Homo sapiens: one gene and its partners. The protein of the gene in region 1 purifies or fractionates together with the protein of each later gene. This does not show direct contact. Each region holds a gene or a part of one and is shown in the gene's direction. Other genes may lie near its edges.

What was found.
Region 2: the proteins of CNKSR3 (region 1) and COLGALT2 purify together in Homo sapiens (affinity purification with mass spectrometry; 2 studies listed by BioGRID and IntAct, with this or other methods). This does not show direct contact.
Region 3: the proteins of CNKSR3 (region 1) and TNIK purify together in Homo sapiens (co-immunoprecipitation; one large-scale study listed by IntAct). This does not show direct contact.
Region 4: the proteins of CNKSR3 (region 1) and KLK7 purify together in Homo sapiens (co-immunoprecipitation; one large-scale study listed by IntAct). This does not show direct contact.
Region 5: the proteins of CNKSR3 (region 1) and BLK purify together in Homo sapiens (affinity purification with mass spectrometry; one large-scale study listed by BioGRID and IntAct). This does not show direct contact.

The regions. Positions count from the first base shown.
Region 1 is NC_000006.12:154,390,429-154,396,815, reverse strand, and holds part of CNKSR3 (connector enhancer of kinase suppressor of ras 3), read left to right. Parts: 3' UTR 1-6,387. UniProt on the Homo sapiens protein: Involved in transepithelial sodium transport. Regulates aldosterone-induced and epithelial sodium channel (ENaC)-mediated sodium transport through regulation of ENaC cell surface expression.
Region 2 is NC_000001.11:183,970,131-183,976,517, reverse strand, and holds part of COLGALT2 (procollagen galactosyltransferase 2), read left to right. Parts: intron 1-1,303; coding exon 1,304-1,421; intron 1,422-2,767; coding exon 2,768-2,902; intron 2,903-6,387. UniProt on the Homo sapiens protein: Beta-galactosyltransferase that transfers beta-galactose to hydroxylysine residues of collagen.
Region 3 is NC_000003.12:171,063,559-171,069,945, reverse strand, and holds part of TNIK (TRAF2 and NCK-interacting protein kinase), read left to right. Parts: intron 1-948; coding exon 949-1,098; intron 1,099-3,210; coding exon 3,211-3,370; intron 3,371-3,619; coding exon 3,620-3,759; intron 3,760-5,981; coding exon 5,982-6,065; 3' UTR 6,066-6,387. UniProt on the Homo sapiens protein: Serine/threonine kinase that acts as an essential activator of the Wnt signaling pathway. Recruited to promoters of Wnt target genes and required to activate their expression. May act by phosphorylating TCF4/TCF7L2.
Region 4 is NC_000019.10:50,977,430-50,982,791, reverse strand, and holds part of KLK7 (kallikrein-7 isoform 1 preproprotein), read left to right. Parts: intron 1-334; coding exon of another isoform or gene 335-392; coding exon 393-465; intron 466-877; coding exon 878-1,025; intron 1,026-2,304; coding exon 2,305-2,552; intron 2,553-2,867; coding exon 2,868-3,004; intron 3,005-5,100; coding exon 5,101-5,256; 3' UTR 5,257-5,362. UniProt on the Homo sapiens protein: May catalyze the degradation of intercellular cohesive structures in the cornified layer of the skin in the continuous shedding of cells from the skin surface. Specific for amino acid residues with aromatic side chains in the P1 position.
Region 5 is NC_000008.11:11,498,179-11,504,386, forward strand, and holds part of BLK (tyrosine-protein kinase Blk), read left to right. Parts: intron 1-6,208. UniProt on the Homo sapiens protein: Non-receptor tyrosine kinase involved in B-lymphocyte development, differentiation and signaling. B-cell receptor (BCR) signaling requires a tight regulation of several protein tyrosine kinases and phosphatases, and associated coreceptors.

The DNA.
Region 1 (6,387 bases):
AAAAAAAAAAAAAAGAAAACAATTAGTGAATTTTTGCTGATGCTTTCCTTAAACCCCTTACTTAGCACTTAGTTCTGGATTCTTAAATCCTGATAATGGACTCATCCTTCTCGGTCTAGTTACCCCAGTAAGTCCCAAGGTCATCCATATGAGGTCCTCCTTGATCTTACTCTGAATAGAATTAACTGGTCTCTTCTGTTTTTCCATAGCATTGACTCATCGTGTTAGACCAGCTTGAATTGTGAGCCTTTCTAAAGCAGGGTCTGTATAATTTACCCTTATATTTGCTCTGTAGGCAGAGAAAATATTATTGAAGTAACTAGATGGTAAAATTAACTGTGCAATCAGAAAAGAAGTTAGAAAAAATTATTAAAATTTTCTGTGAAAATTGTTTTAATTTTATTAATATATTAAAGCATTTTGCAGACTATTCCATAAAGAATTTTATTACATTGGCTCTCATTTTAAAGAAAACATTATACCAGGTGTCAGAACTCAATCATATTTGTAGGAAGAATAAGCCTTGGCCATCAACAACGCTTCTTTGGTTACAGGATTACAGGAACTGCTGAGAATGTAAGCACTTTCCGAAGTCCACAAAGAACTCATTTAAAGCTCGTACAGGCAGTTTCAAATTAGCCAGGGAAAAGTTAATGGTGGGGAGGTAAGGTCATAGAATGCTCTATAAATGGAGGCGACGTGGAGGACAGTTGCAGTTGTATAACATTTGATTGAAGGAGAGGGATTTGGACCTGAGGAAACCAGGTCTATAAATACTAAGGCTGGCTGGGCACAGTTGGCTCATGCCTGTAATCTCAGCATTTTGGGAGGCTGAGGCCGGTGGATTGCTTGAGCCCAGGAGTTTGAGACCAGCCTGGACAACATGGTGAAACCCTGCCTCCAAACAAACAAAATTAACCGAGTGTGGTGGTGTGCACCTGTAGTCCCAGCTACTCAGGAGGCTGAGATGGGAGGATCTCTTGAGCCTGAGAGGTAGAGGCTGCAGTAAGCCCAGATTGCACCACTGCACTCCAGCCTGGTGACAGAGTGAGACTCCATCTCAAACAAACAAAACGTACATGCATATATAGGCTGTAGACTAAATAGTGAAATATTACTAAGAACCTTCATCCCAAGGGGTTGAGTGGTAGAACCACTGAGAATATTGTTGCTGCTCTTTTGGAGACAACAAACTGCATTAATAAAAGTCTGAGAACAAGAAAGTTGAGTTTTCAAGTAATGTCCTTTGCATATTGCTACATAGGGCTCATCTGAGTCTGTGATGTTCTACTTTGTTGATGAAAGAAAACAAGTGGAAATTCTGCTCCCCCACACATCCTGCACTGCAAAAAGATAACAAGTAGCAGGAGATACTCAATTATGATGCAGTTCAACAAAGAAAACAAATTAAAATAAAGAGATCCTGGGTGGTTAAATACAGAGTCTCCTTTGTAAACAGCAATGGATGATGATGATGACTGTTACCAGGGCTCTGTATGATCATTTTCCCAATTCTTTGGAGTACTTTTTTCAAAAGCACTCTTGTAGAATTAACTGGAAACATAGACTACCCTTCACTCATTACATGGGAAATGGGATTGAATTCTCTTCTTGGCAATGGAAAATACTTGATGCATGCAAATAAGAAAACTCTTACTTTTTCCTTCTCTCCTTGCAGGGGGAGCACGCGTCCTAAGCTTGCCAGGAAGCCCTGCTCTCCTGCCCTGGGCACCTCCGTTCCACTTGACCTTTTCCACCTGTACTCCCTGCATTTTGGTCTCTTGCTCTGGTCTTTAGCCTTCGCATTTTCCTGATGCAGCCCAAACCAGTCACCTCTCTCCTAGATTCATTCTCTGTGCTCAGACCATCTCTTTCCTTTAGTTCCTGTGACGAAAGAAAATGTATTTGGCCATTGGAGGTATAAGCAACAAAGAATCCAACCCACACAGCTTTATATATGCAGGTTCTCTATATGCTCTTCTTGTGAACAGCGTGGGGAGAGGAAAATAGACTTGGCAAGAGGACTAAGAACAGAATCGGACAGTTATCTGATGGCTTTCCTAAGGTTCAGGAAAGAACAGTGGTCCCTTTGTTGGGCCTTTCTGTTGTTTCTTTGTTTTCAATTTCACTGATTTCTGCTTTTTATTTTCTATTTTCTTCTGTTTCCTTTGGAATTCTTCTTTTTTTTTTTTTTTTTTTTTACTTCTTGTATTAGGCTCATGCTATAACAAACAACCCCCAAATCTCAGTGACTTTACACACTAAGAGTTTACATTTTCCTCATCAACGTCCACTTTGGATGTTCCAGGTTGGGTAATGCTCTGTGGCTGTCCTCTAGCTAGTGACTCAGGGACTTGGGTTGCTCCTGGTGTCTCCAGCGTGGTTATGGTGTCTCCAATTTTGGACTTCAAGGTGACCCAGGCATTATCCACCTGGTAAATTGGGAGATGGGTCCCAGGAAAGTGAATACTCAACCAACCTGGCCTAGAAGTGACAATAATAAGGCCATGTGTGGTGGCTAACAGTCAGAAACCCAACAATTGGGAGATTGAGCTGGGAGGATTGCTTGAGACCAGAAGTTCAAGACCAGCTGGGCACCATAGTGAGACCCTATCTTTCAAAAAAATATAACAACCAGGCTTGGTGGTGTACACCTGTGGTCCCAGCTATTTGGGAGGCTGAGGTGGGATAATCGCTGGAGCCCAGGAGTTTGAGGTTACAGTAAACCAGGTTTACACCACTGCACTCCAGTCTGGATGACAAAGCAAAACCCTCATCTCACAAAAGAAAAGAAATGACAATCACAGCCACTGCAACTTCAAGGAAGGTTGGGAGAGTGATATTGGTCAGGATGAGTGGTCTCTGACATGTTTCTTAAGTTGGATATTTAGCTTATTAATTTACAACTCTTTTCTAATATTAATACTCAAGACTACATTTTCCCCAAAACATTTATTTTGCCATGTTTTGCAAGGCTTGGTATATGGCATTTTCATTACTCTTTAATTCTAACTAATTTTTAATTTCTATTATGATTTATTATTTGATCTATGAATCATTTTGAAATTTGTTTTTGTAACCTTGGATAGGGAAAGATTTCTTATAGAAGACAGTAAAAGGGCTGAGTACAAAAGAAAAGACTAATAAATTCAGCTACGCTAAAGCTTAGAACTTTTCCTCATCATAGGACACCTTAAAGAAAATTTTTAAAAAGTTACAAATTGGGAGAAGATTAAAAAGTCCTAAGGGTTAGCAGTAAGAATATATACATATAATTATTACAAATTGGCAAGAGAATGACAAATCAACACAAAAACGAGCGAAAAGGCATTTTGCAAAAGAGAATCAGATGGTCCATATGCATGTGAAGCGATTTTCACTAGCGAGCAGGGAAAGTGAAGTCAAAATCACAGGGAGATGCTGCTCTCTACCTGACTGGCAAAACTGAAATGATTAGAAAATACTTGGAGGATATCCTAGAACGATCAGTGGGATCTGGTATATTATGTGTATGAGGTTAAATTAGCAGTGAGTATTCACATACCCTATGACTCAGCAGTTTCATTCCTAGATATATATCCTGGGGATTAGAAACACTAAGTAGGTGGGTGCAGTGGCTCACACCTACAATCCCAGCACTTTGGGAGGCCAAGGCAGGTGGATCACTTGAGGTCAGGGGTTCGAGACCAGACTGGCCAACATGGTGAAACCCCATCTCTACTAAAAATACAAAAATTAGCCAGGCGTGGTGGCGGGCACCTGTAATCCCAGCTACTTGGGAGGCTGAGGTGGGAGAATCGCTTGAACCCCGGAGGTGGAGGTTGCAGTGAGCTGAGATTGTGCCACTGTACTCCAGCCTGGGCGACAGAATGAGACTCCATCTCCAAACAAACAAACAAACAAACAAACCACTAACTACCTCAGAGGACAATGCTAACATTTCAAAGTGTTCTAGAAGTTGGTTTCCCAGAAAAGAAGTCAGGCTCTTGTGGAGCTCCATGGAAACTGGCAATGACCCATGACTTAGGGCAGTGAAGTCTCATCAAATGCAAGGCTTAGACCCCATTCTGCTGCTGCCGTCAGGGGAGGCAAGGGCTCCTTGTTCCCCAAACATCGATGCTAATGAAGCAAATCCTGCTGCTAGTTTGCAGTGTTGCCTAGCTGCAAACACAACCTCTGATGATGCCAATAGAGAGGCTGGTGCCTCCTTCATCATAGAGCTTACAATCCCCACAAGGTTTCGGGACCCTCTTTTGGATTCTGAGGGTGGGCTCCTTTAGCCATCTGTTTAGTGCCCCAGATGAAATTGACAGCAGGGGACCTGCACTCCTTCTACTGCTTTTTCTCAAGGCATCCCCAGCAGAGGGTCTCTAGGGTGCCTGTTATGTGTGCTGTTTGGCCATCTGCCTTTGTAGAACACAGCCCAATGTCTGTTGGCAAAAAAAGGTTTACATGTGGTATATTCTTACCATGGAATATTCTGCAGCAAGTAAAAATGAATAAATTACAGCTATTCATATCAAAGAGATGGATTTTATTAATATAGTGCTGAGTGGGAAAAAGCATCAGAAGACAACATATAATGGTACACTCTTTTTTTTTTTTTGAGATGGAGTCTCTCTCTGTTGCCCAGGCTGGAGTGCAGTGGCTCCATCTCGGCTCACTGCAACCTCCACCTCCCAGGTTCGAGCGATTCTCCTGCCTCAGCTGCCCGAGTAGCTGGGACTACAGGTGCGCACCACCACACCAAGCTAATTTTTGTATTTTTAATAGTGACGGGGTTTCACCATGTTGGCCAGGATGGTCTCTGTCTCTTGACCTCATGATCCGCCTGCCTCAGCCTTCCAAAGTGCTGGGATTACAGGCATGAGCCACCATGCCCAGCTACATTCTTTTTAAACATTCAGAAACAGGTAAAACTGAAAAATATATAATTTAGACACAACACTTATGTGAAAAGACCAAGTTTAGGATGTTGGTTACCTGTGACGGGGCAGCAAGATTGTGGGAAAGGAAGGAAGCTACAGGTATGTGACAGAGAGTTGCATTAGCCCAAATCTCTACAGAGCTGGTGTCAAGGATGAAACTATTGGTGTTTTATTTGGAAGATACAAGCCCAAGGCGAGGTGAGAAAAAAGAGAAGGGAAGCAAAAGAAGACACAAAGTGACACAAAATGGCATGAACTAAATTACGTTCTCTCCAAATTCACATATTGAAGTCCTAACCCCAGTACCTCAGAATGTAACTGTATTTGGAGATTCGGTCTTTAAAGAAGTGATTCAGGCTGGGCCTGATTGCTCACGCCTGTAATCCCAGCACTTTGGGAGGCCGAGGCAGGCGGATCATGAGGTCAGGAGATTGAGACTATCCTGGCTAACACGATGAAACCCTGTCTCTACTAAAAATACAAAAAATTAGCCAGTTGTGGTGGCAGGCGCCTGTAGTCTCAGCTACTTGGGAAGTTGAGGGAGGAGAATGGTGTGAACCCAGGAGGTGGAGCTTGCAGTGAGCCGAGATTGTGCCACTGCACTCCAGCCTGGGTGACAGAGTGAGACCCCGTCTCAAAAAAAGAAAAAAAGTGATTCAGTTAAAATGCAGTCATTATGGTGGGCTCAATCAAGGACATGTGGACACAGATATGTATGCACATGGAGGAAAGACCATGTGAAGTCGGGGAGAAGAAAACCAGCTACACACTAAAGAAAGAGGCGTCAGGCCGGGCGCGATGGCTCCCGCTTGTAATCCTAGCAGTTTGGGAGGCCAAGGTGGGCAAATCACTTGAGGTCAGGAGTTCGAGACCAGCCTGGCCAGAATGGTGAAACCCTCTCTCTACTAAAAATATAAAAATTAGCTGGGCGTGGTGGCATGTGCCTGTAATCCCAGCTACTTGGGAGGCTGAGGCAGGAGAATCACTTGAACCCGGGAGGTGGAGGTTGCAGTGAGCCGAGATGGAGCCACTGCACTCCAGCCTGGGCAACAGAGTGAGACTCCATCTCAAAAAAAAAAAAAAAAAAAAGCCTCAGAAGAAACCAGTGCTGCTGACACCTTGATCAGTCTTCCACCTGCAGAGCTGTGAGAAGACACATTTCTGTTGTTTAAGCTACCCAGTCTGTGGTATTTTGTTATGGCAGCCCCAACAAACTAATACACAAAATGATGCACAGCCTTGCTGACTATCACTTCAAAATGAGCCAAACAGAGACACAACGGGGCACTAGGCAATTGTGTCCCACTCAGTGAAACTTCTCTGGAAAGCTGTAAGGTATAGTCCAGAGACGAGAGGAAGGGAAGAAGAAATTTATCCTCTGGGAGCCTCCCATTTCCTGTCTCCTAATAGTGAGAATTTTTCCATGAGAAGTTAATGTCCCTATACTTTCACAATGTGT
Region 2 (6,387 bases), on another chromosome or scaffold:
TTGCCTGAATTTCTTCCCCAGAGAAGTCATTTATTGAAAGCCAAATTTGTATTATAGTAATAATAAATGCCATTCCAGAACAAGTTTCTGTTCTTCTAGTCTTTCTATATGTAAGAATTATTATAAATATTTATATTATAAAGAAATATATATAAATATGATATAATATATACATATGTGTTTCTCAAATCCAAGCCCATGGACTGTATATCAAGCAAAATTTAACAGTGAAGTCTGAACACCGTAAAAGATTGTAAACACTCCTTTAGAGTGCCTTATAATGGAGTTTGGCCTAACAAAAATGGCACAGAAATACTTTGTGTCCCTTCTTTGCACCTTGGTAATGTTCTCTGCAGCCAGGTTTTGACTAAATATATTATATGCCAAGGTCAGTGTGAAAAAATATTAGAACAGGCATTTTTGGGGGGAATATATTTAGAAAAATGAGAATTCCACTGATTTTCATTGAAACAATAACTGGGGAAGATATTCCAGAGAATTCCTGTGCTGTACATAGTTTTATTAACCTTATTTGTTTAGTTACAGTCTCATTGTTTTTGCAGTTTTTCACTCACTAAAACAAATGTACTGCCAGTGCAGCTATGAGATCTTGAAGTGGTGGCCAGTTTTGGGTTACTGCAACAGTATCAATGTCCGTGCCAGCTGGGTGCCTTCAGAAGGGTTTTGGAGCGTGCTCCAACCCACTTGCCTATGTGGCCATGAAGGAGTCTTGGCCTGGCTGTTTTGTGAATCTTGATAGAGATCCCACGACCTCACTTTACCTAAGATAGATCAATGTGTTAGGCTGTGTGGAATCATTTGTGGAGACTCCAACAAGTAGATTAAACCTTTGATTTTCCTGGGAAACTCATGTTTTACACTGCATACTCTCCAAATCTATTCGATGTCGGGATGTATAAAAATTGTCTAGGAACATGAGCTTTTTGCTTGGATTCAAATCTTGATTGTGCCCCATTGTGTAACATTGGACGAATGACTTAACTGCTCTACCCTGATATCCTCACCTGTGAAATGCAGAGAATAGCAGTACTCACCTCAAAGGGCTCTCATTAGAACCCACTGAAATATTTCATGTAAAGATTCTTGTATACAATGAGCAGTGAGTTACTTGACTTCTCATTGCTCCGGTTTCCTCATCTGTAATATGGGGATGATGATAACAATAATAATAGTATCTACTTCCTGGGATTGATAGAAGATTAAATGAATACATATAAACATTTAGGACAGAGCCTGGTACATGTAGGCACTCAATAATGATGAGCTATTATTATTATTTTAGGTCTTACCCTGATGAAATTGGACCAAAGCACTGGCCAACCTCCCGGTTTGCCCATGTGATGAAACTACGACAGGCAGCCCTTCGAACTGCGAGGGAAAAATGGTCAGACTACATTCTGGTAAAAACAGATGTTTGATTTCTTGACAACTGTCATCTCAGGTGTATCCAAATCAGTCGTCCAAAAACTAGAACCATGGAAGCAATCAAAACAACCTTTTTGATTAGGCAGTGCCTCCCCCACTTTTTAAGAAAGGCACAATGAAATTTTTGGTAGTTTAAAATTGGGCTACCTGGACTTCATCTTCAGGCCCACATGCATTTTCAGTGGGTAAGTGAAGAAGTGCCTGAATTATTTGGTCTCTGCCATGCAACAGGCATAAGAACTCTGCATATTTTTAGCTCACAGGAAAGGCTGTAGGTAAAGCAATGTAAGTTGTTCTTACAACTTTTTGGAAGAATTTGGGGGATATGAAAAAGTAATTATCTAAAAAAGTGATTCAGCTGAACAGCTCTGAAATGGTTCCCTTTTGCTCCTGAATGATCTGGGGAGTAGCATCTGTTGCTTGGCACAGTGATGCTCTCTTTGGAGAATTTATGTCCATCCCCATCCCCTCAACCACAGTGAAAATCTGCCCAAAAATGTATCACGCACACTTGTGACACAAATCCTTTCATAGAAGTTTTCAAATTGTACTGACAATATTTAACATTGTGTAGCTGTTTAAATGCCATTGAAGTGTACAAATGTTAAATCACAAAATTTGGGGTAAACAGATGGACTATCATAAAAATGAAGACTTCTGAATTTTTTATTGTGATAAAACCTACAAAAGGTAAAATCTGTCAGTTTATCCCTTTTTCAGTGTATAGTTCAGTATGATTATTTCTTTTATAAATTAGAATCTGTTGTTATACTGTCTCTAAATAAATCACTGTTAACATGGACTTCTAAGAATAGGAAATAGCTTCACTGGTTAGCATGGGTTGATATAATGTACTTAAACAAAAATTCTACTTGTCACATTAAAATTCATTGATAGATCTGTTTTGAGCTACTCTGGCATTACTATAGAAAAGCTAAGTAGGCATGCCCATCTGTACCTAGACTGGGCAGCCAATAAGTGTTTTTGAATGAACCTTTAATGGCTTGGGAGCCATTAATATCTTGTGCCTAAAACACTAGCCAAAGTGTAGGTTGGTTCCTGGTTGAGGCTATGCCCAGTATGGCAGCACCAATTTACTGCTTAGTGCCTTATGCAGAGCCCAACATACGAAAGTTAGACTAAATATATTTTGACTGAATGAAAGCCACCTAGCTGCAATGGGTTTCAATAAGGAGGACATAGATAGCTGGTTCCATATGTCATGAGCAAGTTTCTGGGATCCTTCAGAAGGGCTGGGTTATTCTCAAACTCATTACTGAAAAGTACCTTTTCACCTAACATTATCCTTTTCTTTTCCTAGTTCATAGATGTTGACAATTTCCTGACTAATCCACAGACCCTCAATCTACTGATTGCAGAAAACAAAACTATTGTGGCCCCCATGCTGGAGTCTCGGGGCCTGTATTCTAATTTCTGGTGCGGAATCACCCCTAAGGCAAGTCTTTTGCTTAAATGAATTAAGGCTACTAGTTTTAACAAGGCAACACCCGGTCAACAGTAGTCCCATTCACCTTTCTCTTGTTTACTCCCTTGAAACATGCGTGTCATTGTGTTCCCAGAGCAAGCATTTTTTAGGAAGGGCAGTAAATCTGGGTCCAATGCTACACCCAGTTGGGCTCTTCTGTGTTAATTTATTATGAAAAAAATAGTCTAAAGAGCTTAGCCTTAGAAACGTCAAATTAGCCAATTCCTGATTCAGGAATTACTATTTTTAATTAATTCTTTTTGTCCTTACAAAACTAACATAAGAACACTATAGAAAAACTTAGAAATTAAAAAAAGTTTAAAAGAAAACCAACAAGACAGATGTTAAATCCCCATCACCGTAACAACATCATAGATAGAAACTTGCACGTTTTTAGTAACTGTGTTATCATCAAGTGGCTATGTTCCAATTTACTTAACCTTTATCTCGGTTTGAAAAACATTTAAATTATTCACAACTTTTTAACTATCGTGACCGTCATGATTAATATAATTTTTCAGCATTTAAGATTATATCCTTAGGATAGCTTTTTAGAAGTGGAATTACTGAGTCAAACAGTACAAATATGCCAGGCGCGGTGGCTCACACCTGTGATCCCAGCACTTTGGGAGGCCAAGGCGGGCGGATTACAAGGTCAGGAGATTGAGACCATCCTGGCTAACATGGTGAAACCTCATCTCTACTAAAAATATAAAAAATTAGCCAGGCGTGGTGTTGGGCGCCTATAGTCCCAGCTACTCGGAAGGCTGAGGCAGGAGAATGGCGTGAACTTGGGAGGCGGAGCTTGCAGTGAGCCGAGGTCGCGCCACTGCGCTCCAGCCTGGGTGACAGAGCGAGACTCCCTCTCAAAAAAGAAAAAAAAAAAAAAAGTACAAATATTTCAATGACCTTCGATGTATGTTGCCAAATTTATTTCCAAAGAGTTCTAATAATGAAAACTACCATGGTAGGTTATTTTTATAAAATTCAAGTTAAAAAAGGTTTGATTTTTTATTATTTCTTTTTTTCATAGTAAAATCTTCAAAATAGTGGTCTGTTTTAGTGAATGCTCATGGCTGGTTATATTTTTTATTCTTTAATTAAAGAATTAGATAAATTCAACTGATTAATGTAATATGTATCAATGTAGGATAAAAATGTGCTAAGCAAAATATGTTGGCCAGGAGCAGTGTCTCATGCCTGTAATTTCAACACTTTGGGAAGCTGAGGTAGGACAATTACTTGAACCCAGGAGTTTGAGACCAACATGAGCAACATGGCGAAACCACATCTCTACAACAAATCAAAAAATTAACCAGTTGTGGTGTCGTGCACACCTATAGTTCCATCTATTCGGGAGGCTGAGCAGGGAGTATTGCTTGAGCCCAAGAAGTTGAGGCTGCAGTGAGCTATGATCACACCACTGCACTGCAGCCTAAGCAACTGAGACCCTGTCTCAAAAAAAGAGGGAGTATGTTCAATGTATTCTCATGGCCAAAGGGCTAAAGTTTGAGTCTCCCCTTTATATTTGGTTTTGTTTTGGATGAGAAATAAGGTCAGTAGTGTGCTGATAAATGTTTAATAACTGGCTCTTTGTGGGAAAAACCCTAGTTGGTAGCATTGCCAATTTTTATGGTTTAAATACTCCCACCATGCAAACAGCTTAAATGTTGTTAAGCTAAGGGAAAGGTTAAGTAAACTGCAGTATAGCCACTTGATGATACAGCTATTAAAAACATGTAAAACTGCCACATGAGGTGTCATTAGAGTGGTGGGGATTAACGTGATTTTTGTTTTTATGGATTCCAAGCTATCAACATGTCAACTGGTTTGCAAACTTTCTGAAAATTTAACAATGTGTGGTCCAGTACACCACTGGATGAAGCATTCCTCTTTTGTTGTAATTATTTCTTCTAGCTGTAAGAGATTTTGAATGCGTGCTATTTTCTGTGTCTCTTTTGGGAAGGTAATATGTTCATATTTCTAACAGCCATTCACTTCCTTGGGAGAAAACATTATATTGGTTTAAATTCATACATTTTCAGTGTTTCACATGGCAGAATCACTTGAGGGTTGTTTTTAATGAGTTGTGCTTTGACATCAGCAACAAGGGTGGGTTATCCTAGTGGCCGCAGCCTACAAATTTGTATTATCTCCTTATTTACTTTCAGGCTTAAAAGCAAATAGGAGAAATGTGCTCACTTGTTTTGTACAGTAAAACTAAATTCTGAGCAACTTAGGGACAAGTATTATTTTCCTCCATTTATTTTTGGCTTTCTACCATCCCAGTTAGTCTCTACTAGAGCAGGAATAGAAAGGGCCAGTGACTTCATAAATTCAAAGCAGGACCTGGTTCCCAGAGCCTTTAAACTCATTCAAAACAAAATGTCCTTGATGTTGTCTGGCCAATGAACAGGAATTATTACCAACAAGATTCAATTTATGTGGAAAAAGGAACACATTCATCATCTCTGCCTCTTTGCAGGAGGCACATTTATTCTCCCTCACTCTCCCTGCTTCCTTCCTTCTCACCCCCACCCCAAGGATATTCAGTGATTCATCATCATCATGGATTTTCCAAGCTAATCATTCTGGGAATATTGTTCCTAAGTAATCTAGAACTTTATATTAGACGCAAGTACTTAGGCAGCCCTTTAAAAAACCCGAGTCCCCTTTATCTCTTGGAAGACTGCTCATAAGCTGAAGTATTAGGAAAACCATAGAGGATGTTAAATGATCCTTAAGTTAAAGGCTAATAAAAACATTATAGTAATGATAATACTTCATATAATGAATTGCAGTTCCCAAAATAGGTTCATAGACCTTATCACATGTGATTCATTCTGCAGCTCTATGAGATTGACAGAGCAGCTGTTATCCCATTTTTCAGGAGAAAAAACTCAGGCTCAAAGAGGGTAGGCATGGACTAAGATCAAACGGCTAGAAGGTGATTAAGATGACTCTGAGACCCACATCTTCTGAGTCCTCATTTTTGATCCTCCTCCCTTATCATGGGGTCGGCATTAGGGTTAGCTCAGCTAGGACACTCTTCTAGAACCTGAAGGGAATGTCAGAGAAGTAGGTGAGGCTGTAGCACCTTATGTGTGGATGCTGAATTACAACAGGAAATGTAACCATGAAGTGATGCAACTGATTAATGAACACATAAGAACTTCCAGAGTATGGTGCCCTTCGGAGTGCTGGCTTTGCAAAACTTAACACTCATTCCAGTGAGCCTGCCATCACCTAGAACATTTTCCAAAATGCCTGGCAAAGCTTCCACAAGTATGTTTTGTAAGCATGTTTTGTTGAGATATATCTTCATCTTTTCTGGAAATGATTCAAGCTTTGGAATAAGGAAATTGGTTGTCCTGTGTGCTTGTGCAGAAGGACGTTTCAGAAGCTGAATCCCCAAAAACTATGGAGCAGCTGCAGCTTCACCAGAATATTGACTA
Region 3 (6,387 bases), on another chromosome or scaffold:
TGAACAGGAAAGAGTGGAACTGGCAAGAGGCCAAGCCTTCCCATAGGACAAGGACAGGACGCTAGAGCTTCCCATGCTGTCAGAATGGTGTTAGCAAAAGATGAGAAGAGAAGGGTCTGAGAGGTAGCAGTGGCATTATAGTTAAGGCAATTGTAGTTTCACAAATGCTCTCCCAGATCTCAAGGCCCAAAGGTAGAGCGTGGTTAAAAAATAGCAAAGGAAAATGGCAGAGGAACACTTGACAGTTAGTTGGGGCTTGGGCTCTGGATTCAAACACAGAGAACTTTGACAAACTTGGCAAGATCTCTCTTTTTGCTTTCTAGTTAAACCCAAATAGTCAATGCAAGCCATCAATCTTGTGATGTTCCACTCCCACCTCTTTCTCTACCACCCAAACCCAAGTCTCAGATTCCAACATTAAGAGAAAGTGCCAATCTTATGCCTACTCATTCACTGAAGAAAAATCCAAACCAGAGCATGCCCATTAATACTAAACAGGCTGAGAAAACAGCCGGCCTTGGCTGTCCCTCCCAGGCTGTCTCTGAAAGGGTAGTTGCTGTGGATGGGCCTGGTTGCCACATGGGAAAGAGGGGGGCCAGAGAGGTGACTGGGCCTTCTTCAGAGGACAAAGGCCAGAAATAAACAGGAAAAAACAGCAATACCCAGGCACCAGGTTTTTAATATACATTACCACTATCAAAATTTACACCTGTGCACCAACTTAAACTTCACTGCCCCGAAGGACAAAGGGTAGAGAAAGGGGCACAAATGGATGCTAGACCCTTCCTCCTAGGGCCAGAATATCAACAGACCTAAAACTGAAAGAGAAATTTTCTAGTTTTTCACTTTAATAAAGTTAGAAGTTAACTTCCTCTAGACAGTGGCTAAAGGAAAAAAATTAAGATGCCTCTTTGAGTGATGCGGATACTAATGGGGTGATTTTTAAAGTCTTTTGCAGATCTCCAGCACAAGCCTCTGCTAGTTGATCTCACGGTAGAAGAAGGTCAAAGATTAAAGGTTATTTTTGGTTCACACACTGGTTTCCATGTAATTGATGTTGATTCAGGAAACTCTTATGATATCTACATACCATCTCATGTAAGTACTCAGAAGTAGACTTTCAAGGGCTCTCTGTACAACAGCCTGCATGTAGAAAGAGATTTGTTTTGCATAGTTTTAGTAGAAGTCATGCACACTTTACTAACCAGCAAATGGACTTTCGTTCTTCATTAAGTATACTGCTTTTAATAACTAAAATATATAAATTTAACTAATTTTTATGACTTCCTAAAATTGGGGAATACATAATAGAAATCATTTGGCATTTACATGTTGTCTCTTTGGACTTTAGATTAAAATGAATATGACATATTTCTTTCAAGGGCATGAATTATATTCGGTAGACAAGTTTCCACATTCAGTTTTTGAAGGGAAATTCGTTCATTTTATGTTAGAGAAAGCCAATGGTCAGGTACTAATTTATTGGAGAAAATTCTTTTTTTGCTATTTTTAGTTCCTCTCTTCAGCTTGAGGGCAGTGTGGTACACTGGAGTCAGACACAGTGGCTCTAGCATGTATTAGCTTTGCAGTAATGGACACAGTAGGCAGCCTCTCCAATCCTCAGCTTTCGCATCTGTAAAATATGGATAAAAAGACTTATCCCATAGGATTATCATTAGTATTAAATGAGGTAATGGATCTAAAGCAGTTGGTACAGGGCCCTGCAAATTGTAGATCTTCTTATTAGCCCTAAAATATTCATATTACTATCCTGACATATTGCTTGAAACATAACTGTTAAAGGGAAATGCTGCACATGGATTCACTTATTAGGATTAAGTGTAGTGTAAAGTGTGTGTCCTGTGTGTAATCCCAAGACTAACACACAGGAGAAACTATTTATCAGGAATGTTTGAAGCTACCGCTGACTGGTATTTTGAGAGTTTTAAGACTTTATTCTAATGAAACGCAATAACTAAAAGAAGTTGTTTCAGTATATTACATACACACACACGACTGCCATTCATTGCTGCATTATTACCACTTTTAACTCATGTGGATGTGGGTGAACACAAGGACTCACAGCTCACATTCCTGGTGAGGCAGCTAAGGTGTAACTATGATAATCCTCAACTCTCTTAGTCCAATCTGTCAAGCACATGTTGGGCTGCCATGGCATTCTCAACTAGGGGATCACAACAACATCACATTTCCTTTCCTAGAACAAATTAATATACACTTATTTCAATAGTGATTTTTTTTTTTTTTTTTTTGGATACGGAGTCTCGCTCTGTCACCCAAGCTGGAGTACAGTGGCGTGATCTCGGCTCACTGCAAGCTCCGCCTCTCCTGGGTTCACACCATTCTCCTGCCTCAGCCTCCCGAGTAGCTGGGACTACAGGTGCCCACCATCATGCCCGGCTAATTTTTTGTATTTTTAGTAGAGACGGGGTTTCATCGTGTTAGCCAGGATGGTCTCGATCTCCTGACGTCGTGATCCGCCCGCCTCGGCCTCCCAAAGTGCTGGGATTACAGGCATGAGCCACTGTGTGCGGCAATAATGATTTTTTTTAATGAGTGGTCATTCTAAATATTTTTTCTAACCAAGCCATGAATTATTCTGGCATTTAGACACCCGGATAAACAATCCTATATATATATTTTTTTTTCACAGATTATTTTGGTAGTTCATTTTGACCCCACTTAAGCTATCTCCATTAGATTCAGCTGGCTTACATTCTCCTCATCTTCTTTTGGAAGTGGTTGTGCTAATAGAAAACACATTAATTTCAACGTCAGCAAGATATACACAAATCCCAACTCTACCAACAAATACTAGCACAACTTTGGTTAAGACACAAAGCCCTTCTGAGATGCAGTTTCCTCATCTGTAAACAAAGCTATCTACCTTGGGGAGCTATTGTAGGTACTAGAAATTATATATGTAAAGGGCCCCATGACTGGCACATAGTAGGTGTGCCATAGATTTACATGCTCTTTTTAGGAACAGGTAAATTGAATTTTTAATCTAGTGACTAAGTTTGATTTACCAGGGTATTTTACAAGTCAGTGGTTAAATTAAAGCAAATTTCAGTCTTTAGGGTGACAATGAAAATAAACAAAAACCTCTTTTTTGCAGTTGTTAGAGATGAATAGTCAAGGTGTTTTATTTTTTAAAAGAATAATGCTTGGCTTTTCTTTGTCTTCTAGATTCAGGGCAATATCACTCCTCATGCTATTGTCATCTTGCCTAAAACAGATGGAATGGAAATGCTTGTTTGCTATGAGGATGAGGGGGTGTATGTAAACACCTATGGCCGGATAACTAAGGATGTGGTGCTCCAATGGGGAGAAATGCCCACGTCTGTGGGTAGGTTAACCATTCCTTATCTCCTTCAGCAGTTACACCCCCCAAATGAAACGAAAATCAAGAAATGTGAAACAACCATTTGATTCCACAAAAAAAAAAAAAAAAAAATCTGTGAATAACTCTTGTAAGACTTGCTTTGTCCATTTATCTCAAGTCGTTTGTCATTTTTGTGGTTAAGATGTGAACAGATGCTGTGAGTTATTGCCCATCTAATGTTTTTAATGCAGTTTTGGAAATTCCTTTTGACAGCCTACATTCATTCCAATCAGATAATGGGCTGGGGCGAGAAAGCTATTGAGATCCGGTCAGTGGAAACAGGACATTTGGATGGAGTATTTATGCATAAGCGAGCTCAAAGGTTAAAGTTTCTATGTGAAAGAAATGATAAGGTAAATCCGTTTCAACATTTGCATTAGTGTTTGCATTTTAAGAGACCACCAGGTACCTGTGAAACCTTCATTTTCCTTTATACTGATTTGAATCACATCTGTGTTAAACAATCAATATTATCTTGAAATGGCATTATTTGGTTTGATCCATGTGAGCACTCAATATATTATTCACATGTCAAAAACTACATAAAAACATTTAGAAATTTCTTGTAAACCTCTTAGAAACCTTTGTGGCCTAAAGGCCTTTTGATGACTCAGCAGACACCCCAAATTCTCCTAAGCACTTAGAGCAGTTGGCCCATCATTAATCATCTCACAGTGGGTCAACTTTATACTTCCACTTTTAGACTTTTCACAAAGTCACTTTCAAGACCTAACCAATCACCTTATATTCACCTTTAAATCCAAAACATTTGACGTTTAGAAATATAAGCTTTTTAAAAATGTCACCCATTCCTTAAGGAATGCACAATCACAAACTCAACTAGTGCCATGTCTTGTGTCATTCCAGCCATGTTTCTTCTGAAATGTCATAGGTGAACTGTTTTCCAGTGAAATTGGCTGTGTCCGTCTGGCATGATCAGTGACCTCAGAGGGGTATTCTGCAGCAGTACTGCTTCTCCCTTACCCTCCCTGTAGAGTAACCCCGAGGTTTTAGTAGCTAAGCCATACTGCATTTGTGAATTCATCCTTTGTGGCTGTGGCCAACATAGAAATGCTGTCCCCAAAGCCACAGACATAAACGCCTATAGAAAAACAGTATGATGGGTTGAATTTTTGTATATCCCTTTGTCCACCCCAGTTCCCCAAAGGTCAGGTTGGTCTTAGTCCAAACCTGGTGATGTGGGCCTAAACTATATTCAACCCTGGCCCACTACTCTGACCTGATGTGGTCTGGGTGGACAGTAGCTGCAGGTGGCAAAGATGGTTCCAGCCATTTAGATTTCCCAGAAAACAAACATAACCTAGTAAAACTCCAGCTCCCACCCAGTCTCTAAGAATCAAAAAACCAGGAGTGATCTGGGTATGGATACCCACATTCCGATTGAAAACCTACCCCAGCAGGGCTGTTCCAAGCCATGCCACACCCTTAGGAGTAGGCTGGGGCCACACCAGTTGTCTGCAACCCAAGGTTTACAGCCAGGGGCACACAACTTGGAGGGAAGAGCAGCCCTTTCTTTTCTTCATTGTGGTTTTCCATAGGCCCTCTCTGTCCTTCTCCGTTTTGATTCATTGACCCTAAGAGTAGCATTACTTTCATATGCAGCATTAGGTGAATGTCAAGCATTTCCAGAGACCTCCCTAAGAAGTTGTTGTTAGCATTCTTCTGAAGAAGCTGTAGAAATGAAGTAGCAGAGACTTTAGACTAGTGACAAAAGCAACTACCTAACAAAAGTTAGGTATTGACTGACTGAAGGGCTAGGCCATAGCCCAAAATATTACTTTCCTGGGGCAGTGGTTCTTTAACATTAAACATTCAGCTCAAGCAAGCAGTAACCCAAATTTTTCTCACGTTTGTCAGTTGTTTGATAAAATGACTTAACAGACTCAGACCTAATGGACTGTGGTTCTCCTCATTAATGCTATGATCTCATTTGCCCTGGGATATGCCACCATCAGCAGAGAAACCATGCGTTAACTCTTGAAATGCCAAAATGAGTAGGCATTAAATACCTTGCCCTATCTGACCACACTATTTAATGTTTTTATCTTAAATTTAAAAAACTGAAATCTGAAACTGTATGATAGTCAGTAGGCCTAAAACTCCCCCTTGACTTTGAGAATTTGAAGGGATTCCCTTCCATCCTGAAGTCTACTTTCTTGTCATTTAAGGGTGAGAGAAGGGAAGCTTCTGTGCCTTTCTAGAAATTAACAAAGAACCTGTTGGGTCCTAGACCAGAAATCCAGCACGTTATCCTAGCATGAAACTCCCTTTTAAAAAGTGAACACCCAAAGAGATGTTACAAATGAAGATATAGCCCCTTCAGCATCTCTGGAGACCAATACCACAATAAGGAATAATAACAACCTAGGAATAAAGGCAGGAGTTTTTACATAGGATGCACGATATCCAAAGGGACTTTATAAACACAAGCCATTGAGTCTTAAGACCTGACACATGGCAAGGATAGGACATGTGAGAGAAAATGGATGGACGGTTGAAGAAAAGAGGGGAAAAGACCATGCAGTTGAACTAACTTCTTTTTAATTTCAAACAGGTATTTTTTGCATCCGTGCGATCTGGAGGAAGTAGCCAAGTGTTTTTCATGACCCTCAACAGAAATTCCATGATGAACTGGTAACAGAAGAGCACTTGGCACTTATCTTCATGGCGTTATTTCTAATTTAAAAGAACATAACTCATGTGGACTTATGCCAGTCTAGAGGCAGAATCAGAAGGCTTGGTTGAACATATCGCTTTCCCTTTTTCCTCTCCCTCCGCCCCTCCCAGTACAGTCCATCTTTCAATGTTGCAGCCTGGTTGAGAAGGAGAGAAAAAGGTGGCAGGAATTTCCAGGAGATCCCCAAGAATGCTGCCTTGTCTGTGGACAAAGATGGACCATGTGCCCTTCGGAATTAGGGATAGAAACAAATATTGTGTGCTCTTAACGATTAAGCTGTGTT
Region 4 (5,362 bases), on another chromosome or scaffold:
AGGGAGGAGGGGCTGGGGGCCTGGACTCCTGGGTCTGAGGGAGGAAGGTGCTAGGGTCTGGACTCTTGGGTATGAGGGAGGAGGAGGTTAGGGGTCTGGACTTCTGAGTGTAAGGAAGGAGAGGCCAGAGAAAGGAATTTCTGGGTCTGAGGGAGGAGGGGCTGGGGTTCTGGACCCCTAGGTCTGAGGGAGGAGGGGCTGGGGCCTGGACCCCTGGGTCTGAGGGAGGAGGGGCTGGGGCCTGGACTCCTGGGTCTGTGGGGGGAGGGGCTGGGGCCTGGACCCCTGGGTCTGAGTGGGGAGGGGCTGGGCCTGAATGCTTTCTCCTTCTCAGCTCCAGCAGGAGAGGCCCTTCCTCGCCTGGCAGCCCCTGAGCGGCTCAGCAGGGCACCATGGCAAGATCCCTTCTCCTGCCCCTGCAGATCTTACTGCTATCCTTAGCCTTGGAAACTGCAGGAGAAGAAGGTGAAAGCTGGACTGGGAAGTCTGACCTCACCTCAGGGCCCCCACTGACCCTCTCCAAGGAGTCCCTGAGTCAGAACCCTTCCCTCCTCAAACAGCTTCCATCCTGGGAGGACCAGACTGTCGGCTGAAGCCCCCGCTCTTCCTGCTTCTGCTGACTCAGGGGGTCTCTGTCCCCTCCAGGCCCTGCCTCCTGTGCTCAGGGTCTCTCTGTGGTTCCCCAGATGAGATGCGCCTCCTGGGTTTCTGAGTGGGCTCCTTCTGTCTGTCTCTATCCCTATCTCTTGCTTTCTCTGTATTTCTCCACACATTTTCATCTGTCTCTGTCCATCTCTGACTCTGGGAATCCCTGAGGTGCAGCCTCAGCCTTCCCCTAATGCTAGCTACCCACGTGCTCCTCCATGTCTCCATCCAGCCCAGGGTGACAAGATTATTGATGGCGCCCCATGTGCAAGAGGCTCCCACCCATGGCAGGTGGCCCTGCTCAGTGGCAATCAGCTCCACTGCGGAGGCGTCCTGGTCAATGAGCGCTGGGTGCTCACTGCCGCCCACTGCAAGATGAAGTAGGTGCCGCCCAAGTCTCTGCTGGAGGTGCACCAGCGTCTCCAGCTCGCTATGGGGGTGGAAGGGCAGTCTTTCTGTGCCTACGGCTCTATTCTCCTCTCTCTGGGTCTCTGTCCTCCTCTCTCTGGGCCTCTGTACCCCCTCTCCCTGGGGCTCTGTCCCCCTCTCTCCCTGGCTCTCTGTCTCCCTCTCTCTGGGTCTCTGTCCCCCTCTCTCTGGATCTCTGTTCCCCTCTCTCTGTGTCTCTGTCCCCCATTCTCTCTAGGTCTCTGTTCCCCCTCCTCTCTCTCTGGGTCTCTGTCCCTCTCTCTCTGGTCTCTGTCCCCCTCTCTCTCTGGATCTCTGTCCCCCTCTCCCTGGGCCTCTGTACCCCCTCTCCCTGGGGCTCTGTCCCCCTCTCTCTGGGTCTCTGTCTGCCTTTCTCTCTGGATCTCTGTTCCCCTCTGTGTCTCTGTCCCCTTCTCTCTCCGGGTCTCTGTTCCCCCTCCTCTCTTTCTGGGTCTCTGTCCCTCTCTCTCTGGGTCTCTGTCCCCCTCTCTCTCTGGTCTCTGTTCCCCCTCCTCTCTCTCTGGTCTCTGTCCCTCTCTCTCTGGGTCTCTGTCACCCTCTCTCTCTGGGTCTCTGTCACCCTCTCTCTCTGGTCTCTGTTCCCCCTCCTCTCTCTGTGGGTCTCTGTCCCTCTCTCTCTGGGTCTCTGTTCCCCTCTCTCTCTGGTCTCTGTTCCCCCTCCTCTCTCTCTGGATCTCTGTCCCCCTCTCCCTGGGGCTCTGTCCCCCTCTCTCCCTGGCTCTCTGTCTTCCTCTCTCTGGGGCTCTGTCCCCCTCTCTCTCTGGTCTCTGTTCCCCTCTCTCTGGGTCTCTGTCCCTCTCTCTCTGGGTCTCTGTCCCTCTCTCTCTGGATCTCTGTCCCCCTCTCTCTCTGGGTCTCTGTTCCCCTCTCTCTGGGTCTCTGTCCCCTCTCCTCTCTCTGTGTCTCTCTCCCCCCTCCTCTCTCTGTGTCTCTGTCCCCCCTCCTATCTCTGTGTCTCTCTCCCCCCTCCTCTCTCTGGGTCTCTGTCCCCCCCTCTCTGGGTCTCTGTCTCCCTCTCTCTGGGGCTCTGTCCCCCTCTCTCTCTGGATCTCTGTTCCCCTCTCTCTGGGTCTCTGTCTCCCCTCCTCTCTCTGTGTCTCTGTCCCCCCTCCTCTCTCTGGGTCTCTGTCCCCACCCCGTCCCCCAGGTCTTTGCACACCCTCTCTGTCACAGTGTCTCTTCTGAATCTGTGAATGTCACTCCTCGCAGTGAGTACACCGTGCACCTGGGCAGTGATACGCTGGGCGACAGGAGAGCTCAGAGGATCAAGGCCTCGAAGTCATTCCGCCACCCCGGCTACTCCACACAGACCCATGTTAATGACCTCATGCTCGTGAAGCTCAATAGCCAGGCCAGGCTGTCATCCATGGTGAAGAAAGTCAGGCTGCCCTCCCGCTGCGAACCCCCTGGAACCACCTGTACTGTCTCCGGCTGGGGCACTACCACGAGCCCAGATGGTAGGTGGCCTCAGTGACCCAGGAGTGCAGGCCCCAGCCCTCCTCCCTCAGACCCAGGAGTCCAGGCCCCCAGCCCCTCCTCCCTCAGACCCAGGAGTCCAGGCCTCAGCCCCTCCTCCCTCAGACCCAGGAGTCCAGGCCCCCAGCCCCTCCTCCCTCAGACCCGGGAGTCCAGACCCCAGCCCCTCCTCCCTCAGACCCAGCAGTCCTGGGCCCCAGACCCTCCTCCCTCGGAACCAGGAGCCTGAACAACAGCCCTTCTGGTCCTCGCCCCCATCCTCTCTGACTGACAGCTCTCCCTGCTCCTCCCTGCAGTGACCTTTCCCTCTGACCTCATGTGCGTGGATGTCAAGCTCATCTCCCCCCAGGACTGCACGAAGGTTTACAAGGACTTACTGGAAAATTCCATGCTGTGCGCTGGCATCCCCGACTCCAAGAAAAACGCCTGCAATGTGAGACCCTCCCCCCCAATTCCTCCCCAGTCCTGGGTACCCTGTCTGCATGCCCCAGGGACAGAGCTTGACCCGAGTGACTGGGTACCAAGCCCGGCCTTGCCCTCCCCCCAGGCCTGGCCTCCTCAGCTTTTTCCACCTCATTCTCTGCCTAGGTCAGGGGTGGGAGTTTACTTAGGGGCCAATGTGGCCCTGGGGATGAGACAGAGAGTTTAATAGGGGTGAGAAAGTGGGGGTGGGACCAGGGAAGGAGACTGAGGTGCTGGCCTCAGGCCCAAACCTTAAGGGGGCACCAAAAACCTCAGTGATTGAGATAAATCATAATGCAATATTTAAAAATAAAAATAAAAACTCATGCAGAAGTCCATGATGGACAAAATGTCACATTTTAAATAAAGAGCAGGTGGATCTTACTGAATTTTCCCTTGCCGTAAGTACTAGCGTGGCTCAGCACAGCGCTGTACTGGCACTGTCTTCATTTAAAATGTGGATACCATGCCCATCATGCAGTTTTATGTATTACATTTGATTTCGTTAAGTACTGCATTGAAGTATTGTGTATTGCAGTTACTGAGATTTTGTGCCTGAAGCTGATGACTCACTCACCTGACCCTGGCCCTGGTCCCGGGGAAAACACTCTTTCTCTCCACCTCCTCTCTGTTCCCTCTTTCTGGCCTTTTGTCATCCCCTCTGTTTCTGAACAGTCTTCCCACATCTCTCTTTGTGACATAATTTCATTTCATTCTTTTCCTCTTTGTTTTTTCTCTGTGTTGAGCTAGCTTGCTCTCCCTCCCTTGTTCTCTCTCCATGCCCTCCTCTCTGCTCTCTGTCTTCTCCCTCTTTCTCTTGCTTCTCTCTCTCTCCTCCCCTCCCTCTCTCCTCTCCCTGCCCCCCTGCTCTCTCTTTTTTCCTCTCTCTCTGTCTCCTCTCTGGCCCTCTCCTCTTTCTCTCTCTCCCCCACTTCTCTGTCTCTCTTCATCTCTCTCCCTCATCTCTCCTTGCCCCCTCCTTTTTACTGTCTCTCTCTTTCTCTTTCTTCTATCTCTCTCCTCTCCCTGCCGCTCCCCCATCTCTGTCTTTCTTTCTCTCTCTTTATTCTCCTCCTCTCTTCCAGTCTCTCTCTCCTCTCCCCACCCCCACCCCATCTCTCTCCCCACACCTTCCCCCCCTTTCTCTTTGTCTCTCTCTTCTCCCTCTTTCTTCTCCACCCCCATCTCTCTCTCTCTTCTCTTCCCACACCCTCCCCATCTCCCTCATCTCTTTGTCTGTCTCTCTTCTCCCTCCTTCTTTTCCACCCCCATCTCTCTGTCTCTCTCTCTCCCCATACCCTTTCCCTCTTCCTCATCTCTCTTTGTCTCTCTCTCCTTTCCCTCTTTCTTCTCCACCTCCAACTCTCTCTGTCTCTCCACACCCATCCTCCTTGCTCACATCTGCACCTTCAGCTGTCAGGGGATGTGGGATGGTGAGTGTTAGGGATAGAGGAGATGGGAGAGAGATGACTGTCCTAGAGAATAGGGTGTTCCCCTTCTCCCCTGGTGAGGGCCAGTTTCATGAATGTGCAAGCTCTGCACGGACACAGAGCCCCACACTCAGAAGGGTCTCAAACTTAGTCTAATGCATTCCTGCTGTTGTCTTGAAATTCTCAATAATTTTTGAACAAAGGGCCCTGCATTTTCGTTTTGCACCAAGTCCTGTAAATTATGTAACTGGTCTTCACCCTGGTCTCCGAGACCATCGTGTCCCCCTTTCCTGCGCCACAGGGCACGCATCCACCCCTTGGAGATGATGTTCCTTCTCCCACTAGCTTGGAGCAGGGTCCTTAACATTGGAAAATAAAGAGTGCTCTGATCCTGGAAGCCCCACCCCTTCTCTGCAATTGGTCTCATTGGCCAAGGGTCAAACCAGTGTCTTCAAAGGACCTAGTGTGTCCCTAGCACTAGCTCTCCCATTAGTCCCCAGAGACAATGAGTCTCTTCTCATTGGCTATGGTGGAAGTCCATAATCTGCAAGACAAAGACCGATAACTGAGGAATGTATGAGAATGAGTTGGGCTTTGATCTGAAGCCAAAGTTAATCTCCGGCTCTATTCCCTCTAGGGTGACTCAGGGGGACCGTTGGTGTGCAGAGGTACCCTGCAAGGTCTGGTGTCCTGGGGAACTTTCCCTTGCGGCCAACCCAATGACCCAGGAGTCTACACTCAAGTGTGCAAGTTCACCAAGTGGATAAATGACACCATGAAAAAGCATCGCTAACGCCACACTGAGTTAATTAACTGTGTGCTTCCAACAGAAAATGCACAGGAGTGAGGACGCCGATGACCTATGAAGTCAAATTTGACTTTACCTTTCCTCAAAGATA
Region 5 (6,208 bases), on another chromosome or scaffold:
AGACACACCTGGGATGCAAAATGTAAGGAGGCTCCCATGCTCAGGTCGTTCAAGTGCAGGAAAAGTTTGTGTATGTGTGAAACGCACAATGCCATGTGGTGTCTATAAGGGCATTTGAGGTTCTGTGCTTAATAGATGAAGTGGGTTCTGAGCATTGAGTCTGTGGATTCCTGATGAGTTTCCTGGTGCTCTGAGCTCCGTGAACTTGTAAACAAGCTTTTGTGTAGGTGGGTACTTACAGTTTTTGTCAGATTCCCAAAGGGGTCTGTGAACCCCAAAATATTTGGAATCACACAGTCAAATATCTAGGAAGACTACTTTAATTTTCTCTCTCAGCGTGTTGTGGATATGAGGAAGTGGAAAGGACTTGGACATAGAAGTCAGACAAAGCAGCCACATCTGAGTGGTCTCGTCCTGCAGTGTAGTGGTTAGACGGCTGGCCTTGTCAACCAGAGGGCTCCAGTGCAAGGTTCAGCCCTGGCAATGTGAGCAAGTCACTGTGTGCCTTCCTGAGATGATAATAGTTTGACCCCACTGTATACGAGCAGCCTTACCTGTCTCGGGTAGGTTAATTATATCCTCTCAGTCTTATTTCTTCATTCATTGATAATAGCACATCACAGGATTAACAGAATTAAATTACAAAGCCCTAATTTTTAGGTGAGTTGAAGCTGAGGAGCACACAACTTTTCTTACAGGGTGCACTCAATTCTCAATGTCAGAACCACCAGGGGGTCCTTGTACTTCAAAAAGACACATCTTACATGACAACTTCTTTGATTTACTTTTATGCCCAATATTCATTTTGAAACCTCACAAAGGAGAGCATGGTGTTGTTGTTTCTCAAAAGAGAAAGTAAATTTAGTAAGATTGAGAGCCATGAACCTAGACACAGTCACAGGGCACATAAGATTTCGGTCAATCACAGACTACATATATGATGGTGGTCTCATAAGATGAAGACACTGTATTTTGCCTGTACCTGTTCTATGTTTAGAGACACAAATATTCACCACTGTGTTACTACTGCCTGCAGTATTTAGTACAGTCGCAGGCTGTGTAGGTGTGTAGCCTAGAAGCAACCGGCTATGCCACAGAGCCTAGGGGTGGAGTAGGCTCTACCATCTAAGTTTTGTATACGATGTTCGCAGAACAACAAAATCACCTAATGACACATTTTTCAGAACAGATCCCTGTAGTGAAGCAATACGTAACTATATTTTGGGAACTTCCCCTGTATCCAGATAGTCAGTCCAAGAGCTGTGTGTTTGGATCTCACAGTGCTTGAGATCCTGAGAGAATCTCATTTCCTGAGTCAGATGTGGGCATTCTTTCTTGGCATGGGTACACTGCCGTGGCTTGTGCTGAAGGCTGCATAAGAAACAGAGGTTGGAAACTCACAGTGGAATTTATTGCTGAGATGACGTTAAGCTGTTCGCATTCCACCCAGGACCTCCACAGGAGAAGCCCAGAGAGGATGACTCTCAGACTCCAGATCCAGGAAATCCATGCCTCTCTGGAGCAATGGATGTCTTACAGACACTGTGACTCTTCAAACTGATTATTTTCTTCTTTGTGCTTGGACTCCAGGACACTTAGAACCCAATTTGCATCTAACCACTAGCAGTTTGGTGACAGCATGTCACAGTTTGTATTTCTGTGCACCAGCTTTATACACATTTTTTTTTCTGCCCTAACTTACCCTTTGGTCTAATTTCTTTATCTGTTTTTCTATCCTGTTGTATTGTATGTATTTTTATAAGCGGTCTCAAATCTTTTCTGGAAACACTAGGAAATGAATATATAAACAAATACAAGCAGGACAGCATTTCTGAAAGAGCCTGATATACAGTGAGGGTGCTCACTAAGGATTAGTTCCCTATCTGTGTACAAAACAGAAAAATTCACTGAGGGAGCCAACCTGCAGTCAAATGTCCAGCTGTGAGTCTATTACAGTTATAGAAATAGCTTATTTTTACACATATTCCACCTTAGATTGATTTGGGGGGTGTTTGTTTTTGTTGTTGTTGTTTGAGACAAGGTCTCACTCTGTTGCCCAGGCTGGAGTGCAATGGTTTGATCTCAGCTCACTACATCCTCCGCCTCCCGGGTTCAAGCAACTCTCCCACCTCAGCCTCCCGAGTAGCTAGGACTACAGGTGTGCACCACCACGCCCTGCTAATTTTTGTATTTTTTTGATAGAGACAGGGTTTCATCATGTTGGCCAGGCTGGTCTCAAACTCTGGACCTCAAGTGATCTGCCTGCCTTGGCCTCCCAAAGTGTTGGGATTACAAGCATAAACCACTGCACCTGGCCTGTTTTTTTGTTTTGTTTTATTTTGTTTTTGTTTGTTTGAGATAGGGTCTCGCTCTGCCTCCCAGGCTGGAGTGCAGTGGTGTAATCATGGCTCACTGCAGCCTCCACTTCCCCAGCTCAGGCAATCCTCCCACCTCAGCCTCCCAAGTAGTTGGGACCACAGGTGTGCACCACCACGCCTGGCTAATTTTGGTTTTTGTAGAGATGGGTTTTTACCATGTTGTCTAGGCTGGTCTCAACCTCCTGAGCTCAAGCAATCTGCCTGCCTCAGCCTCCCAAAGTGCTGGGATTACAGGCATGAGTGACCATGCCTGGCTCTACCTTTTATGTTAAAGTTTATATAAATTATTTCATTTTAAGATTCTTTTATTCCTGCCATTTCTGTGGTGCAATTGGATTTTTACATAAAGTTAAATAATACTTTTTATTTTGGCCAGGCGTGGTGGCTCACACCTGTAATCCCAGCACTTTGGGAGGCCAAGGTGGGAGGATTGCTTGAGGTCAGGGGTTCGAGACCAGCCTGGCCAACATGGTGAAACCCCATCTCTACCAAAAATACAAAAATTAGCTGGGCATGGTGGCAGGCACCTGTAATCCCAGCTACTCAGAAGGCTGAGGCAGGAGAATTGCTTGAACCCAGGAGATCTCAGCAGTGAGCTGAGACTGCCGCTGCACTCCAGCTTGGACGACAGAGTGAAAAAAATTAAAAATTAAATGATACTTTTAATTTTATTTACTATTTTATTTGAATAAATAAAAGGATCCTTTAAAAAGTATTACACACGAAAATAGGGTCAAAAGTCATAGCCCATTTTCTTGATTTTATTTGGTGCTTTATGGGAAAGGCTAAACTCTCTCTCTTTTTTTTTTTTTTAACACATTAGCATGGAAAGGAATCATTTCTACTTTGTGGTGTCTGTCTGTCTGTCTATCTGATGGGCTCTCTGGCACCTGCCAGCACACTGGGGGAAGTGTGAGGTCAAGATAGGCATCTTGTAGATGAAGAGCATGGCGTCCTGGTAAACGTTTAACAACCAGCTTTCCAGGAAACAAATGTATTGTATACATACATAAGTTTATAGTAACATGTACTGATATAAAGGATGCGTAGCACTTAATTTACAAATAATAACAAAATATGCAATAGTCTCTGTCCTAAATACCGCAGAGGTGATTGAGTCTCATAGAAAGCTCTCGTGACTTTGCACTGTCATATCCGTAGCCAAGCATTGGTTGCAGCAGATGAGCAAGTGTGGTGTTGGCACAAACACTGAAATGTTCATTCATGTTAAGGAGCAGATCAAAGTGAAACAACAAAGAGTTGGGGCAGGCTGCAGCCTTAGTGCCATGAGCGGCTTCTTTGTTGAACTGGGTAGTAGTTTTTCAATATTCAGAAAAGTTTCCTCAATGTTTTGTGCTACTCACAGTGTTCTAGCTACAGACAAGATGCTCTTTTAAGCATAGAAAATCCATGAAACAAATCACTGCCGACCTGTAGCATTTGCCTGTTCCTGTTGTATAAATACTCCCACCAGGGCCAATTTCAAGTTGCTAACATGACTTGCGTGAACATGGGTTCGAGATGCGCAGCAGCACAGCACGATAGAGTACTTCCGCCTTATAGACACAGTCAGTTAAAGAACCTCAAAGCATAGCTATTATTAAGATGCAGTAAAAATAATCAGGAAGTGATGAGGTTTAAGTATTTATAACCTTTGTTTTAATAGAATCCATTTAGTTGTATCTTGTATAATTCAACTTTAATTTTTTATCATTTTAATTTTATATAGTTTTTTTTTCTTTTTCTTTCTTTTTTATTTTTCTTTGAGAAGGAGTCTTACTCTGTTGCCCAGGCTGCAGTGCAGTGGCACGATCTCTGGTCACTGCAACTTCCACCTCCTGGGTTTAAGGGATTCTCCTGCCTCATCCTCCCAATTAGCTGGGATTACAGGCACCCGCCACCATGCCTGGCTAATTTTTGTATTTTAAGTAGAGTTAGCCAGGCTGGTCTTGAACTCCTGACCTCAAGTGATCTGCCCAGTTCGGCCTCCCAAACTGCTGGGATTACAGACATGAGCCACCACGCCCGGCCCGTATAGTTTTTATACCTTAATCTTGCATAATGATTTGAATAATTCAGCTCACAAAATTCCTGAGAATTTAACAACCGGCTCTAGCATACCGGCACAAGCTGGCCCCCAGTGCATCACTGACGGGGAGGCCGAGTGTCTTGAGGCCACACTGCAGATCAGGGTCCTGCCTGCAGCCAAGTGGGGACAAGTGGAGAATAACTTGCCTCCTGGGCTCTCCTGAGTCCCGAGCCTGACAGCGGAGGCCCAGGTGGGTGACCCTGCTTTGTGCTCGGTGGCAGGGGAAGGGGGGTGGGCCTGTGGGCCTGGATGGAGAACCTGTCCCCATGGCTGTCATGTCCCTACACCAGCTGCTGCCAGCCACTGTGGGGTTCGCAAGTCCCCACTCGCAAAACGGCTACTGTTTTCCACAACCATGGGATACAAGGATGTCCCCTTGGGCTCCTTCTCATCTCTACTCTCTGCTGGCCTCTTTGCACAGATTGATACCTGGGATGCTGAGCCAGGACCAGAGGGAGGTAAAGACACACCTGGGGTGCAAAACTGAAGGAGGCCCTGATGCTTGAGGTTGTTCAAGTGCAGAGAATGTTTGTGTATGTGTGAAGCACACAACCACACGTAGCATCTAAAAGGACATTTGATGTTCTGCACTTAATAGATTAAGCTGGTTCTGACCTTCTAGCCCCTGGGCTTCTGATGAGTCTCCTGGTAGCCTGTCAGCTCCTGATCTTGGATGGGAGCTTGTGTGTAGGTGGGCACTCTTCTGCAAAGTGCGTTTATGGCTTTTATCTGGTTTCCTCTGATCAGAAAGATCTGGGGGTGCTGGCACACCCAGACGACTAGTAACTCCCAAAGGGAGAGGTGCAGCTTTGTCACCTGCCCCTGTGTCAGGTGGGACGTGAGATGCTCTATTTTTTTCTGCTCCATCCTGTGCCCAAGCCTTATACAGGGTGACCCTTTTCAGAGAGGCCTTTGCCACCAGGTCAGTGTGAGCATGTGGCTGGGTGATTTCCTGCCGTGGACCAGGGATCTGTGTGCTGTCTGAAGTAAGCAAGGGTGCTCTTTCTTGGCAAGGTCTGAGGGCTGAGACTTGCAAGGAGACACCTGCTCTCTTGGTCACCAGACTGGAGGTTCCTATGTGCAGGTGTGGAGGATGGAAGAGGTCACTCTGTCCTCTTTCTTGCCTGGGCCTCACCTCTGCTGAGGCTGCTGGCTGCCCTGGGCTCGCAGTGAAAGGGGCCATCTTCCACCCTCCCCTGCTGGTCAAGTGCATCTTTCCAGGTTCCGGCACTCCACGTTGCCACCCAGACAAGTGTCCTGTGGGAACTAGCAAGTGGGAATCAAAACTACCCCCAGAGAGGCTCCTGGCCGGGAGATGAAGGGATCTACCCTGGGGCTAAAGTCTCCCCAGCCTTTCTTGGAGCTTAGGTCCTGGCTTTAGAAAGATCCCATTCACATCCAGGCACAGTGGCACACACCTGTAATCTCAGTACTTTGGGAGGCCGAGGCAGGCGGATCACTTGAGGTCAGGAGTTTGAGACTGGTCTGGCCAACATGGCGAAACTGTCTCTACTCAAAATGCAAAAATTAGCTGGGTGTGGTGGTGTGCGACTGTAATCCCAGCTACTCAGGAGGCTGAGGTAGGAGAATTGCTTGAACCCAAGGAGGCAAAGGTTGCAGTGAGCTGAGATCGCACCATTGCACTCCAGCTTGAGCAACAGAGCGAGATTCCATCTCAAAATAAAGAAAGGAAGGGAGGAAGGAAGGAAGGAAGGAAGGAAGAAAGAAAAGAAAAGAAAAG